Linked DNA regions of Homo sapiens: all the other regions are linked to region 1. Evidence: fine-mapped expression QTL. A gene starts in region 1. Each other region holds a variant in brackets. All regions are shown on one strand. Distances are from middle to middle.

The links. PIP is the estimated chance that this variant, and not a neighbour inherited with it, causes the effect.
Region 2: its variant is fine-mapped to the expression of EEPD1 in pancreas (GTEx, PIP 0.97).
Region 3: its variant is fine-mapped to the expression of EEPD1 in tibial artery (GTEx, PIP above 0.99).

What each region holds. Positions count from the first base shown.
Region 1 is chr7:36,150,280-36,155,501 of GRCh38, forward strand. EEPD1 (endonuclease/exonuclease/phosphatase family domain containing 1) reads left to right here and starts at 2,975. Exons shown (of 8, transcript NM_030636.3): 1 at 2,975-3,395; 2 at 3,854-4,923. The coding sequence starts at 4,046. RefSeq lists a silencer at 2,387-3,106.
Region 2 is chr7:36,287,457-36,292,678 of GRCh38, forward strand. It overlaps EEPD1 (endonuclease/exonuclease/phosphatase family domain containing 1), which reads left to right. Exons shown (of 8, transcript NM_030636.3): 6 at 183-321. Among named protein-coding and RNA genes, the nearest start is that of MATCAP2, 77 kb to the right of the region's middle. RefSeq lists a silencer at 4,584-4,878. The variant G/C (reference allele first, on the strand shown) is at 2,920.
Region 3 is chr7:36,243,413-36,248,634 of GRCh38, forward strand. All of the region lies in intron 3 of EEPD1 (endonuclease/exonuclease/phosphatase family domain containing 1), which reads left to right. Among named protein-coding and RNA genes, the nearest start is that of EEPD1, 93 kb to the left of the region's middle. RefSeq lists an enhancer at 2,782-3,284. The variant T/G (reference allele first, on the strand shown) is at 2,510.

The DNA.
Region 1 (5,222 bases):
TAGCACAGCAGATAAAATAGACTGTTAGCCGTAAGTTTAAAGGCCTCTGTCGCCCACTTTCCTGAGCCCCCAAGCCAAGCTGGGGAATGTTCTCTTCTATTAGCTGTCTGTTCAACTTCTTGGACCCCTTCATCCCCCTCCTAAACCTTTTCATCTCCACCCAGGCTCACGTACCCCACTCTCCCCAAAAACAAGGCCTATGTTTTTTTAGATTCAGAGAAAATTTTTTTTCATTTTTTGAAGATTTTTCCAAAGCTGTTGTCACTGAAGTACACCCAAATGCACATATTTAAAGTATACGATTCTGTCAGTTTTGACATTCATATGCCCATGAAACTATCACCTCTCAAACTACATTGCCATCAGCCCCCAAAGTTTCTTTGTGCCCTTTAAAATCCATTCCTCCCTCCCCATCATCCCCAGGTAACCACTGATCTGCTTTCTCTATATGTATGTCAGTTTGTATTTTCTGGTGTTTTATATAAATAGAATCATACAGTATGTTCTTTTTTGCCTTGCTTCTTTCACTCAGTATAACGATTTTGAGACTTTTCAATGTCATGTAATAGTTTGTCTTTATTGCTCAGTAGCATTCCATTGTATGGATATACTACAATTTATTCATTCATCCACTGATGGATTTGAGTTTCTTGTTGTTTTGCTTTGTGTGTGTGTGTGTGTGTGTGTGTGTGTGTGGGTGTGTGTGTGTGTGTGTGTTTGGCTATAACAAACAAAGCTCCTATGAACATCCACATTCAAGTCTCTGGGTTTCATGTTTTCCTTTTTCTTTGGTAAATACCTATAAGTAGATTGGTTGAGTCATATGGTAAGTATACGTTTAACTTCTTAGGAAACTTCCAAACTGATTTCCAAAGTAGTGGTGCCATCTTACACCTCCACCAGCAATGTATGACCATTTCAATTGCTCTGCGTCCTCACCAACATTGGATACAATCAGTCGTTTTAAAGTTAACCATCTCATTGCATGTTTTTGTGGGGTGTATGTATGTGTGTTTTTAAATGCACTTTGGTTTGGCCAACGCTTGGTTTCATTTATACCAAGGGGAGCATTTGCTAGGTTTATGGGGAATAAAACCAGATTATTTCTGTTGTTCTAGGATATTATTAATAGAGTCCTCTCTTCACCTCCAGAGTGTCCTGGTTTGTATGATAAAATATGTTTTCTCTGCTTCCAGCCCAAGTAGCCACGCTCCACGGCTGTGCTTCCACAGCCACGTTGCGCATCAAGGCATTCTGCTCAACGAAGAGTTTTCTCTGTTTTCCTGCTTGTCTTAAACTGTTTTTTCCTTACCGCACCAGGATTTCAGTGCGTGGCATAATGTAGCCCAGTGTTTGGGTGGGAGATGATGGTAGGTAGCAAGGCATTTTTGCGATCAAGTGCAAATAGCTTGCCTAAAAATAAAGCCAATAAAGAGAACCGTGGAGCCAGAGATGGAGGCAGTCCTGCCATGTCCTAATGACCCCATCATCACTTGGGTCGGATGCAACCAGACTTGAGGTAAGATTCCTTACCTTAACTTTTCAACAAGGAACCAAAAATTTCCCCCCGACCTTTTTTTTTTTTTTTTTGGTCTAAGCTAGTTTGACTTGGTTTTCTGACCAATATACATAGCAGGGGAATGTGCCTCAGAAAGGCAGTAGCATTTTCCAAACTTGGGCTGCCGCTAATTTTACAACCAAAGTACCTTCCGCCTGTGAGAGGTACTATTTTTGCTGACCCAGTCCTTGGAATTGAAACCAGATGCACTGGTCACATTGGTTGGGGATGAAACTTCAGAGAACACTAAACGTCCAGGGTCAAAGTATTCAACGATATCACCGCATGATTTGCTTAATCGAATACTCTAGCTCTAGGTATCCACTATAATGCAGAGGGCTCTTTAATCTTTAACCAAATTGTCATTTAGCAGTGTGATGCAAAAACTCTTCTGGGTTTTGGGAAGCAGCCCCCATTTCCCTCCTTCGTAATGATTAGACTTAATATTACAAAAACTTATCCTTGTTTACTCACAGCGCTAAATGTGCAAAGGAGCAAACCTGTATTTGACCTATGCGAACACACAGGAGGGTGGTGCGTGCCCTCTGCTAGGAGCACAATGCGTCGCTGGCGTTATTAGAGGACATCTCTCTGAGCGGAGCAAAGGTAATACACTGGTGGAAGAAAAGAAAAGGCCGAAAGTGGGGACAGAAATTAAGACGATCCCATTCAGTCTCCTCTGGAACGTTCTGCAAAATTCCGTGAGACCCTGGACCTACAGCGATGCACTCTCAGGGACTGCCCCGGCCTTCATCCCCACACCTCAAAGACAGACGAAAAGCAGCTGAGCAGATCTCGCCTCGGGCAATCCTAAACAGCCTCTACCAGGCACAACCAGTCCTAGGCCCCGGGCGGCAACCATGGTCCGGGGGCAGCTGACTTAGGACAGCCTCCCTGTGACCCGCCCTCGCCGGCACGGCGCCGGCTCCGCCCCTTAAGCCCCCTAAGTCCCGCCTCTGCGCTCCCGGGGCCTACCCCCGCGCTCATGGCCCCGCCCCCGCTTTTCCTACCCCATCGCGCCCTGGCCCCGCTCCCACACTCTATGACCCCGCCTCTCGCACTCCAGGCCCGCCCCACGCGCTCCAGGGTTCTGCTCTCCACCCATTTGTGCCAGGCCACGCCCCCACACCCATGGCTCCTCCTCTCGCACGCCAGGGCCTCCCCTCGCGCTCTCTGGTTCGTTCTCCACCCTCTTGAGCCTTGATGCCGCCCCCTCTTCCATGGCCCCGCCTCTCCCACTCCAGGCCCGCCCTTGCGCTCTCGGGTTCCTCTCTCCACCCACTGGTGCCAGGCCTCGCCCCGCGCCAGGGCCCCTCCCCCACGTGCCCTCGGGAGTCCCGGGGAGGAGTTGCCGCGCGGAGGAGGCGTGGCCGCGGTGCCTGCGGAGGCGCGAGCGGCGCGGCGCGGCGCGGCCGGGACTTTGGCTTTGACACCGACTGCGAGCGGGAGCCGTGCGGCTGGTGCTGGGTCTGGACTGGCTCTGGCGGATCCCCGCCCGAGTTGGGCGCAGGACTTTTTGCCGGGGTAAACGCAACTGCGGCGGCGCCGCCGCAAGCCCCGGTGCAGCCTCGGCGGCGGGTTTCGCCGCCGCTGCCGCCGCCTCCGAGCAGCCCTGCGGCTTCTATTCACTCTGGGAGAGCGATGCTAAGTTTCTCCCATAGAAAGAGCCGGGACACGCAGACCGAAGCGGCGTAGTCGGCTTCCAGGGCCTGACCAGTGACCCACACCCGCGCGGACGCCTAGGCTGGAGGCAGGGGGCCCGTGCTGTCCCGGGCTGGGCTCAGGCTTCCGAGCCGCAGGTGGAAGAGGAACCGGCGCCCCGCAGAGCGGCCGAGAGGTGGGGCGCGGGGACCCGCGGCAGGTCGGGTGGGGGGTCGATAAGCCCCTTCTCAGTGCCCGCTCCGGGGAGCACGGACTTCCCAGGTTGCAGGTAGCGCTGTGTCAGATGCGGAGCGTGGGGGAGGTGGAGTGGCCACCCCGTCTGCGCGAGCCCAAGTGTGGGTGACCCAAGTGTCAGAGTTGAGAGAGGCCTGGAGGAGAGGCATGAGGCTGATGGGGATAGGTCTCTTCCCAAGAGAAGCGGCTCGTAGCCTTTTTGGACTCCAGTGTGATAAAACCCGGACGTCCCTAGAGGAGAATCCACATGGGCCTAGCCTCATTGTGCCTGCGTTTTTAGGGGTTCACGGGCAGCCACCAGTCCCCGACTCCTGGTTACTAACTCTAGCACTAGGTAGGGGGTGCTAATGCAAATTTCTTAATTCAATGGGTTTCTATGTTTATTGATTTATTTTCTAGGCGGCCAAGTGAAAGGTAATTTTGGACACGCCAGGCATGGAAGATTCGGTGTTTGTCTATAGTAACCTCTTCAGTCCCTGAATCCTGCACCTTCCGTTTTTCTGTGCTTGTACGGCCTACTGGGCTTCCTCCCTAGCCAGAGAGCTCTTCTGCAGTGGTGCGGCCTTCCCGGGAGCCTGATCCTGGCGGACCATGGGGAGCACCCTGGGCTGCCACCGCTCCATCCCCAGGGACCCCTCGGACCTGTCCCATAGCCGCAAGTTCAGCGCAGCCTGTAACTTCAGCAACATTCTAGTGAATCAGGAGCGGCTCAACATCAACACTGCCACGGAGGAGGAGCTGATGACCCTGCCTGGGGTGACGCGTGCCGTGGCACGCAGCATCGTGGAGTACCGAGAGTATATCGGTGGCTTCAAGAAGGTGGAGGACCTGGCATTGGTCAGTGGTGTAGGCGCCACCAAGCTGGAGCAGGTCAAGTTTGAGATCTGTGTGAGCAGCAAGGGCAGCTCAGCGCAGCACTCTCCCAGTTCCCTGCGGCGGGACCTGCTAGCGGAGCAGCAGCCTCACCACCTGGCCACAGCTGTGCCCCTCACCCCACGTGTTAACATCAACACAGCCACCCCGGCCCAGCTCATGAGCGTGCGAGGCCTCTCGGAGAAAATGGCCCTCAGCATCGTGGACTTCCGCCGTGAGCATGGGCCCTTTCGCAGCGTTGAGGACCTAGTGAGGATGGATGGTATCAATGCCGCCTTCCTGGACAGGATCCGGCACCAGGTGTTTGCTGAGAGGTCCAGGCCCCCATCCACCCACACGAACGGGGGACTGACCTTCACCGCCAAGCCTCACCCGAGCCCCACTTCCCTGAGCCTGCAGAGTGAGGACCTGGACCTGCCGCCAGGGGGGCCCACCCAGATTATCTCCACTCGGCCGTCCGTGGAGGCCTTTGGAGGCACAAGGGATGGGAGGCCTGTGCTGAGGCTGGCCACCTGGAACTTGCAGGGCTGTTCCGTGGAGAAGGCCAACAACCCCGGGGTGCGAGAGGTGGTGTGCATGACACTCCTGGAAAACAGGTGAGGACAGGAACCACCATGGGTGTTGGGTGTGAAGGCAACTTGTGCGTGACCTCATCTATGGATGCAAATGAATGGATTCTTTTGCGGGTAGGGAGGGTGCAAGAGTTTTTAATCAATGTTCTTGAAGCCTCAGCCAATACCGTCACCTGAGAATGGGCTGTCCTTCTGCTCCAGAATTTTCTGAATACAGCTGGGCTTGTGACCCATGTCTTGAGTGTGAGATATCTGAGACTGATTCATAATTTTGGGGTAAGCAGAGGTTGTGTTTTTGTTACTGCTTTGGAGGATGCTGGGTC
Region 2 (5,222 bases), 140 kb after region 1:
CAGGTGCCTTGGAAAAATCGAAGATGAAAGACCTTACATTATTTCCTGGGGGTGTGAGCCAGCCTTGTTCTTGTTTACCATTGTCAACTCTGTGCACAAAGCTATTTATGAGTCGGTTGTAACGGATACAGGAAATATGAGCTTCTGAGCCTCTCCCTGTTGCTTTGTTTCCTGCTGCCTAGGTGGGAAGTCACGACCTGACCCTTGTTAACCTTCACCTGGCAGCCCTGACCCTCCTGGGGAGCGAGAATCCCAGCAAGAATCACAGTGATGGCCACCGGTTGGCGAGCTTTGCACAGACCCTACAGGAAACCCTGAAAGGTAGGACATTGTCTTTTGCTGTGACTCGGCCACTGTTTTGCAGAGCAGCAGGGCTGCCTCTTCTGAGCCATCTCTGACCACTTGGGCTGGCTGTTTGTCAGCAATGTGAGTCGCGGGTACAGGGGACAGTCAAACCTCTGGCATCTCATGGAGCCCAGCTGACCCTGCACGGCCACATCTGTGCCTCTGTGGACCTAGCATATGCGTTCCAAGCTGTCAGCTCTGTGGCTTTTTAGCCTCATTTAGATAGAAAGGATTAGGGGGGAAGAATATAAGTGATGATGCCCTTCCCCGAAGACAGCTCATCCTGGGACCAGCTGCCTCGGGCATCACTCCGGTGGTGCCGCCTGCAGATTTGCATGTGCTCTTCCTGTGAAAGAGAGACGGGGGTGACAAGGGGAAGTGGTAAATTGCTGATGATTGGTGAATTGAGTTTTTCTCTCTGGCGGGATACAGAGCATGTTGAAGAAGCCCTGAACCTGTCAGAAATGCTGGATTTTAATCTTGTAGGACCTCAGGCAAGCCACCAAACCACTTCAGGCCCCCATCTGATGGGGGACAGTACTCATCTCATAGCAGTACCCAGAGGGCTAAGTAACAGTGTCTGCAGCAATACCAAGCACATAGTAGGGACTTCATGTACACGAGTTGACTCTAAAACATGAGAAGAATTAAGAGAACACTGAAAAGAGCAGAATTCTAGCTAGGCACGGTAGCTCATGCCTGTAATCTCAGCACTTTGGGAGGCCAAGGCGGGAGGATCACTTGAGCCCAGGAGTTCAAGAGCAGCTTGGGCAACATAGTGAGACCCTGTCTCTACAAAGAACGAAAAAAATTAGCCGGGCATGGTGGTACACACCAGTAGTCCCAGATATTCAGGAGGTTGAGGAGGGAGAATCACTTGAGCCCAGGAAGTCGAGGCTGCAGTGAGCTTTGATCGCACCACTGTACTCCAGTCTGGGCAACACAGCAAGACCCCATCTCTTAAAAAAAAAAAAAAAAGGAGCTGAACTCCAGGACAAAGGGGGGCTATGCCCCAACTAATATAGATGGTTTTCTGCACTTGGTTTACCAAAAGAAAAGGTTGACAAGGCTGTGAAGACTGTGATCTTATCCATCTGGCTTGATTTTTCAGAACACTGACCTTGTCTAGGTGAGTTTGTAGTTGGAGGCTTGGAATTCTCTTCTATCTTTTGAGTCTGGACCAATATTCTCTAGCTTTCTAAGACTTCCTCGTTAAACTGGCCCCTCAAATTGGGAGATTCATGAAGATTTTACTACAAAAATATTTCAGTCAAACTGTAGGCTCACATTTCAAAAGATGTATGTATGTATATATGTATATATGTATTTGAATTTGCATTTCTAACAAAAAAGATTTTTTACTGTGGTAAAATATATGTAACATAAAATTTACCATTTTAATCATTTTACATATTCAAGTCAGTGCTACTAATGTATTGACATTGTTGTACAAACATTACCACCATCCGTCTCCAGAACCTTTTCATCTTTCCAAACTGAAGCTCGGTACCCATTCAACGATATCTCCCCATGCGCCCCTCCCTGCAGCCCTTGGCAACCAGCATTCTACCTTCTGTCTCTGTGATTGTGACTACTCTAGGTGCCCCAAATAAGTAGAATGATAATATTTGTCCTTTTGTGTCTGGCTTGTTTCACTTAGTATAATGTCTTCAAGGTTCATCCATGTTGTAGCATGTGTCAGAATTTCCTCACTTTTTTGTGTGTGTGTGTCGCCCAGGCTGGAGTGCAGAGGCACGATCTCGGCTCACTGCAAGCTCCGCCTCCCGGGTTCACGCCATTCTCCTGCCTCAGCCTCCCGAGTAGCTGGGACTATAGGCGCCCGCCACCGCGCCTGGCTAATTTTTTGTATTTTTAGTAGAGACGGGGTTTCACCGTGTTAGCCAGGATGGTCTCAATCTCCTGACCTCGTGATCTGCCCGCCTCGGCCTCCCAAAGTGCTGGGATTACAGGCGTGAGCCACAGCGCCTGGCCAGAATTTCCTCACTTTTTGAGGCTAAGTAATATCCCACTGTGCATCCATCCACCATAGTTTGTTGCTTATCCATTCATCTTCTGATAGACACTTGGGTAGCTTCCACCTTTGTCCTGTTGTGACAACGCTGCTGTGAAGATTGATGTGCAGCAGCTTTTCTTTTGAACCAGGACATGCCGTGACCAACGTTCTACTTTAAGGATGAGTCCTCAGGCTAAAAACAGTCAGAAGATGCTCTATCCAAGAAGCAACTGTGTGGGAAATTGTCCACCTATAGTTAGACTCTGATCTGTAAAATGGACAACTTGATAGCTTGTCACATCTGTGGACATTACTATTGTTCTTGATCTCAAACTTTTTGTGGAAGCAGAAAGGAAAGATGCCAGCTCATAACTTCTTTGACAGCCTTAGGCAGTCACCATCCCCCCACCCCACCCCTGGTATCCAGGGAGTAGTCAGGATTTTGGCAGAAAACCTTGGGCAGGTTATGTTCCAAATTGCCAAGGTACTATTGACCCACAGCCTGGCTTGGCCTTGACTCATCCAAGTAGGGACAATGACTCATGCTGCCTGTGTCCCCT[G/C]CTTGTAACTAGTACCCAATTAATTATTAACTGGTGACACTCCAGACCCAGGGGTTCAGGAAGCAATTCAGCCTGCCCAGGTCTAACAAGGGTAGACAAGTCAGCAGAGGGGTTCAGCTAAAGCAAAGACAAAGCCTTCATTCCACAGCTTCTATCAGAGCAAACAGAACCGATGTGGTTAGCAAGCTCCGGGCCTTTCTGCCTTTGTCTGGAACGTGCATGCAGGCTGACGTCAGTGGGGATATGCCAGTCCCCTAGTGGAACCTTCTTCCCTCAGACCTCACCAGGACTTGGGGACAGGGTCTCCCTCTGTGAACTGAGCAAGAGTGAAACAGGGTGTGTAGTAACTCTTGACATCTTGGCAGATGGTCCCTCAGTGGGGACTGGTTCCTGTAGTTGTCATTGGCGTTTTATAAATCTAGAGACTCTCTGAGGAAGTCAGCCCAAAACGTTCTCCCCTCACTGCTGGGAATCAAGGGAGCGACAAAGGAGCCCAGCCCAGGTGGGTGGCTTTTTAGGAAGATAACTCAGGCTCCTGCGCATCTACCTGTGGATTCTCAGAAGCAACAACTGCCTTGATGTCATCACCGACGCGGATTCAATCGGAAGAACATGAGTTGTAAGAAATCCGATGTGCTCATTCAAAAAGGGAACCGTTGTCACTCCTGAAGCTACACAGAGCTGGCTCTATTGACCCTTGACACCAGCGTCTCTCCTGGCTTTAGAATTGTCTTTTTCAGCCCAGACCTTTGCAGGCCTGCATCCCAACGAAAACCTCCCTCATTATATGGGAACTTTGTTTTCTTTGATATTCAATGAATGTAGCATCTTTCTCTTTGTTCCTTTCCAAATCAAACTGCACCCTAATTCTGGGACATTTGTGGTTCCGCTTGTCTGTTGCTCACATATTTATTGAGTGCCTGCTGATGCACTTGGTGTCGCAGTGGACAGCAGCCACTTCCGTGTGGTCTTCCATCCTAGCCCTTTGTGGTGAGCCCTGGATTTGAGGCCTGGCCTGGTGACTTTGGACAAACCTTCCCACCTCTGGGAGCCTGTTTCGTACCTGCAGAAGGGAGATGGTAACAGCACCTGCCCCATGGGTCGTGGCTGTTAAGTGCGGTGCTATCGAGGAAGTGGTCAGCACAGTGCCATGACTATTATTCAAGCTGGCACTGATTTCTCCATGGTGTGGGTGGCCCTGCAGGAGAGGCTTCCTTCCATCCCACCCATTGTCCTCACTCCTCCTAGAGGAGGGCGCCATCTGCAATGCACATGCGCCCTCTGGTGGTGGCCTGAGTGGCTTCCCTTCAGATTCCTTTCCCTGCAGTTGTTATTACGGAAGCACACCCGTGGCCAGGAAAAAAAGATTTGCCAAGTGTCGTGGATACATTTATGACTTCGTTTATGAACTGCTTTCCCTAAAGCCTCCTTCACAAGGTGTGGCAGAAATGCCACCTCCTGCTGTGGGACAACAAGGGTCAAGCAGAGCCCAGGGGAATCCCGCAGAGCCCAGCTGGGGGGCGAGTGTTCTTTCAGGATTTCTACTCGCTTTGCTTGGAAAATACTTCATAACTATCCCACTTCCTCTAGGGTAAATCAGACTGTGGGAGAAATGTCTAAAATGCTTTAGGAGAAAACCTTTCCCCCTTGGCCCTGAAATCACTTTGTAGTTCTTATGCACACATATTTAACTTCCACTGTGTGTCTCTCCCTGACAAACCTGTGAAGCTGTATCAGGAAACTGATCAGGAAGGGGGCCCACGCTACATGTGAGTGCCCCGTGCCAGGCGCTTCTGGCGGCTCCTCTAATCCTGACACCAACCTGGGAGGAAATGGCTTGTTCTTTCCCTTTTATAGACTAAAAGGCTTGCCCAAGGTCACGAAGCTGGGAAGTGACAAACTTCAAATTCCACACTCAGAGTCATCCAGCTGTTTTCTCTTAGAACCGGGGCCGAGAACCACTGTTTTCTTTCTTTCTTTTTTCTTTTCTTTTCTTTTGTTTTGTTTTCTTTTCTTTTCTTTCTTTCTTTTCTTTCTTTTTCTCTCTTTTTCTTTCTCTCTCTCTGTCTCTCCCTCCCTCCCTCCTTGTCTTTCTCTCTCTCTCTCTTTCTCTCTCTTTTTCTCTTTCTCTTTCTCTTCTTTCTTTTCTTCTTTGACAGAGTCTCACTCTAGCCGAGGCTGGAGTGCAGTGGAGCCATGTTGGCTCACTGCAACCTCTGTCTCCCGGGTTCAAGCGATTCTCCTGCCTCAGCCTCCCAAGTAACTGGGATTACAGGCGCCCACCACTATGCCCAGCTGATTTT
Region 3 (5,222 bases), 93 kb after region 1:
AAATAGTCTTAATTCAATAGGTAGAGCCAGCAAAAAAGGGCTTAGTTAGACACACATTCTGCAAACCTCAAACCTCTTTTACTGTCATGCAGCTGAGCTTCAAATGACAACCGGCCTTTGAGTTTTGTAATCACTGAACTCCCAACACCCTGCTGTGATAGAACTGGTCGCTTCTAGCCAGACAGTCCCAACAGTGGGGACCTGCACAGGCCTCCTCTTTTAAGATGGAAGCTATTCTAAAGGGGCCATTTCCTTCACAAGTACTGGTGGATTAAATTTGAACAATAAAATATTTAAATTATGTAAAACCTAATGTGAGTTCATGTCCTTTGTAGGGACATGGATGAAATTGGAAATCATCATTCTCAGTAAACTATCGCAAGGACAAAAAACCAAACACCGCATGTTCTCACTCATAGATGGGAATTGAACAATGAGAACACATGGACACAGGAAGGGGAACATCACACTCTGGGGACTGTTGTGGGGTAGGGGGAGGGGGGAGGGATAGCATTAGAAGATATACCTAATGCTAAATGACGAGTTAATGGGTGCAGCACACCAGCATGGCACATGTATACATATGTAACTAACCTGCACATTGTGCACATGTACCCTAAAACTTAAAGTATAATAATAATTAAAAAAAAAGAAAATAGTCTTAATTCAATAGGTAGAGCCAGCAAAAAAGGGCTTAGTTAGACACACATTCTGCAAACCTCAAACCTCTTTTACTGTCATGCAGCTGAGCTTCAAATGACAACCTGCCTTTGAGTTTTGTAATCACTGAACTCCCAACACCCTGCTATGATAGAACTGGTCGCTTCTAGCCAGACAGTCCCAACAGTGGGGACCTGCACAGGCCTCCTCTTTTAAGATGGAAGCTATTCTAAAGGGGCCATTTCCTTCACAAGTACTGGTAGATTAAATTTGAACAATAAAAGATTTAAATTATGTAAAACCTAATATAAAAAGCTAAAAAGAAGTAGTAGTCTTTTAAGGTCTCATAGAAAATAAGTGCTTTTTCTTGCTAATATTAGGCCTTGTTATTAGGATCTTAGTATTTTAACTTAAAATGACCAGCCATTTGCCTAAACATTACTTGGTTTTAGGTAGACAGCCTTCCCATTTTTAGACGTGCCAAGGTTTTCCTGTTTTCTGCAGAGCCCAGAGCCAGCTCTGAGGAGGTTCCCAATTGGCAGAGCCGAGTTCTCCTCCCGGTGTGGCCTCTGCTGAGCTGCTGTGTCTGGCAGAGGATCTTCCCTGAAGGCCCCAGCCCCTTTCCTAGCCTGTGAAACTGCTCTCTGTGATTCCTTCCCACTCTTCGATACCTGGGCTTCATTTTTCAGAGTTGATTTTTTTTTTTTTTTTTTTTTTGGAGACGGAGTCTTGCCCTGTTGCCCAGGCTGGAGTGCAATGGTGTGATCTCGGCTCACTGCAACCTCCGCATCCTGAGTTCGAGCAATTCTCCTGCCTCAGCCTCCTGAGTAGCTGGGATTATAGGTGTCTGCCATTATGCCCGGCTAATGTTTTTTTTTTGTTGTTTTTTTTGAGATGGAGTCTCGCTCTGTTGCCCAAGCTAGAGTGCAGTAGTATGATCTCGGCTCACTGCAACCTTCACCTCCCAGGTGCAAGCAATTCTCCTGCCTCAGCCTCCTGAGTAGCTGGGATTACAGGTGCCTGCCACCATGCCCAGCTAATTTTTTTGTATTTTTATTAGAGATGGGATCTCACCATGTTGGCCAGGCTGGTCTTGATCTCCGGGCCTCAGGTCATCCACCCACCTTGGTCTCCCAAAGTGCTGGGATTACAGACATGAGCTACCGCGCCTGGCCACAGAGTTGATTCTTGATCACATTGTGAAGAGGGGGACATTTTGCCCTTGTGTACTCAGTTTTCTCGTATTTTCTCCACTTCCTTGCTCCAGTGGTCCTTACTGTGTTTGGGGGCTTTCCTGTTTCACCTGCCCTACTTACCATCAAATCACGTGTTCTGGGAAGAGGTGAATGGTGAACACAAGCCCAGTACATAGATACACAGAGACCCCCAAGGCATAAATCAGTAGGGTTCTAGTTTTTGCCTCTTATTCTTTGTCTTCATTTAGGTGCAGTAGATTGGGTAGGAGGTGGGGGCCCCTTGTGGGATCAGGCTTCTGAGTTTCTCTTCTCTCCTAACGCTACACAGAGCCAGTTCCCAGACTAGTAAAAGTGACTTGTCACTTATTTTTAAAATGTTATAAACCATACAATTAACAATCTAAATTCTTCAACCAATTTCTTCTTTTGAAAAATGGTTAGAACCATGAGCAGATGATCTAAGATGTGTGAGTGTCAGTGCATGTGACATTGGTCTGAAAAAGTGTTTTGGATTTAGATGTGCTTTTTTTGTCAAACATCCATTAGGTCCCAAGAGCAAGAACTTGCTGTAAGAAGGATACATGTCATGCAGTTCTCTGTTGTTTTTGCTCTGAGAGTGGGACACTTCTGTTTTTCTGAACTTAAGTCACAGG[T/G]ACTTGTTTCCCAGGCTTTAAACACAGGCCCATCTAAAGCCTTTAAAAGTGGCATTTCATAAAAGGAAATAAAAATATTGGTACAGCTTGATTTAGAAAGATCATTTTTCAATGACCCTTTCAAATGGCTTCCTGCAAAGCCACAAACAATAGTTTGGCCGGTCATTCCAGCTGGACCGTGGTAGGACCAGAGGGCGGACCACTGGCTGACCCAACCTGAGACCAGTGCCTGCCTGAGAAGCTGCCTGTGTGAGCTGGGCCCTCAGGAGACACAGGCCACCCACCTGGTGGCCTTGCCAGTGCTGCCGCTCCCAGATCATGACTCTGTTATAATTACAAGTCCACTGAGTTCATGCTGTGAGGGCAGTGGTGGGGGTTGAAGCCAGCCCTGCCATTTGCCAGCTGGGGGACATAGGAGGCCAGGTACTGGCTAGCCTCTGTTTCTTTTTAACATGGAGCTTCAGAATAATACCTATCCTATTAGGATATTGTTATGAGAACTAAGTGAGATGTGTGAAATAAAAGCCGTTATGTATATCGTAAGCACCAAAGTGGCAGTAGCTGGTACTATCCCCTCTACTGCTAATTAGCTGCTGCTGTGGTCGTCATCATCATCATCACTGGCATCTCGTCCTTACTTCTCTCTGGAGAAGCCCAACTTGAGATCGATCTGTTGCCATTAAAAGATGTGAAAGAAGTTGCATCCCCACTGCTCCTTTTGCCAAATTGTCTAGGAAAAGATGCCTGTCAGTCCTCCCTGCTGATAGGTGTTTTTTTTTTAGAATTTCAGCTTTGGAGCCCAACTCCTATTCTAGTTTTCCTGAAGATGGAGCAGACCTCTAAGATGTCTTAGAGTGCTTTACATGTGTGACAGAGTATGTGCATTTCATCAGCAAGCTTGGGACTAGAAAAATTGAACTTGGGCTGGGCGCAGTGTCTCACGCCTGTAATCCCAGCACTTTGGGAGGCCAAGGCGGGTGGATCGCCTGAGGTCAGGAGTTCGAGACCAGCCTGGCCGATATGGTGAAACCCCATCTCTACCAAAAATACAAAAATTAGCCAGGCGTGGTGGCACACACCTGTAATTCCAGCTACTCGGGAGGCTGAGGCAGAATTGCTTGATCCTGGGAGGCAGAGGTTGCAGTGAGCTGAGATCGCACCATTGCACTACAGCCTGGGTGACAGAGTGAGACTCCATCTCAAAAAAAAAAAAAAAAAGAAAAGAAAAAAATTGAACTTGACAGATTAGTCAGGGAGTTTCCAGGCAAACCCTAGTGGTGGGCAACGTTAGAATGATAGCTTCCTGGGAATTTTCAGAAGGAAAGAGGATGATAAGCCATTTTCACATAGATGTGTGTGAATAACCTAAGGATGCAAAGTGCTTGTGTCTGTAATTGGTGAGGGTGTTTTCTGAATATACACACATGTACATCCATAAACACTACCTCTCTTATTACGTGCTTTTGGAGTGTTATTCACTATGATTTGGACTTGCAATTAACTTAGTTTCTGCAACAATTGAGTGCTTGCTCAGTGCCAAAATTATACTGTTTACCAACGGGGATAAAGTTATAAAGATACATGTGATTATAAAGATACATTTACATTTGAATGGCATAGAATCCCAGAACTTCAGAATCAAGGGAGACTTTTAAAACCATCTAATCCAACCCTGTCATTTTGCAGACAGGACATTGAGGCCAAGGGAGTTGAAGTGCCCTCTGCCCCAGGTCCACAGCAGGTGTGTTGGTAATCCAGGACCCATCACAGCAGACTGGGCTCCATTTCCCAGCTCCTTTAAGTGCAACCAGCTGCCCATCTTCTGTGATCTCATTTAATCTGAACATCAGCCTTAGCAGGCATACTGGACGATCCTATCTCCGCATTTCCCAGGAGTGGGAGCAGGTCCATAGGATCAGTCCTGGCCCAGGTGATGGGGAACCAATGCCCAGATCTTCTCATAGTGTGACTTGTAGCAAAACAGACTTGCACAGTTGGTGTTAGCCTCCTCCAGCAGGAGAGGCAGAGAATGTGGGATGGGGGATAGAGGACGCAGAAGGAGGTTCTGGGTTCCAGATGTGGACAATGTCAAAGGAGCACCTAAAAGTGAAGGAACACACAGGGTGTGAGGGCTGCCTAGAGACCATCCACCTAGCAGGTTATGGGAGCCATGAGGACACGTGAGAGGTTGGAGGACGTGGACTGGACACACCTTTCATTTGGGCTTGGTGTCCAAATGAATTACTTCAAGAATCTTAACTTATAAAAATATATATACTTTAAGATACTTTTTTTTTTTTTGAGACAGAGTCTCACTCTGTCCCCCAGGCTGGAGTGCAGTGGTGCAATCTCAGCTCATTGCAACCTCCACCTCCTGAGCTCAAGCGATTTTACCCCCCTCAGCCTCCCGACTAGCTGGAATTACAGGCTTGCACCACCACACCCAGCTAATTTTTTCTATTTTTAGTAGAGAGTTGGTTTCACTGCATTTCCCAGGCTGGTCTCAAACTCCTGGCCTCAAGTAATCTGCCCACCTCGGCCTCCCAAAGTGCTGGGATTACAGGCATGAGCCACCACCCTCGGCCAGATACTCTTTTTTTTTTTTTTTTTTTCCAAAAAAACACTGTGTTATTTCAAAAATATCAGAATGAGATTCTTCAGATCCCTTATTTATTTTCCCCCACCCCCGCCACACTTAGCCCTTCATGTAGTC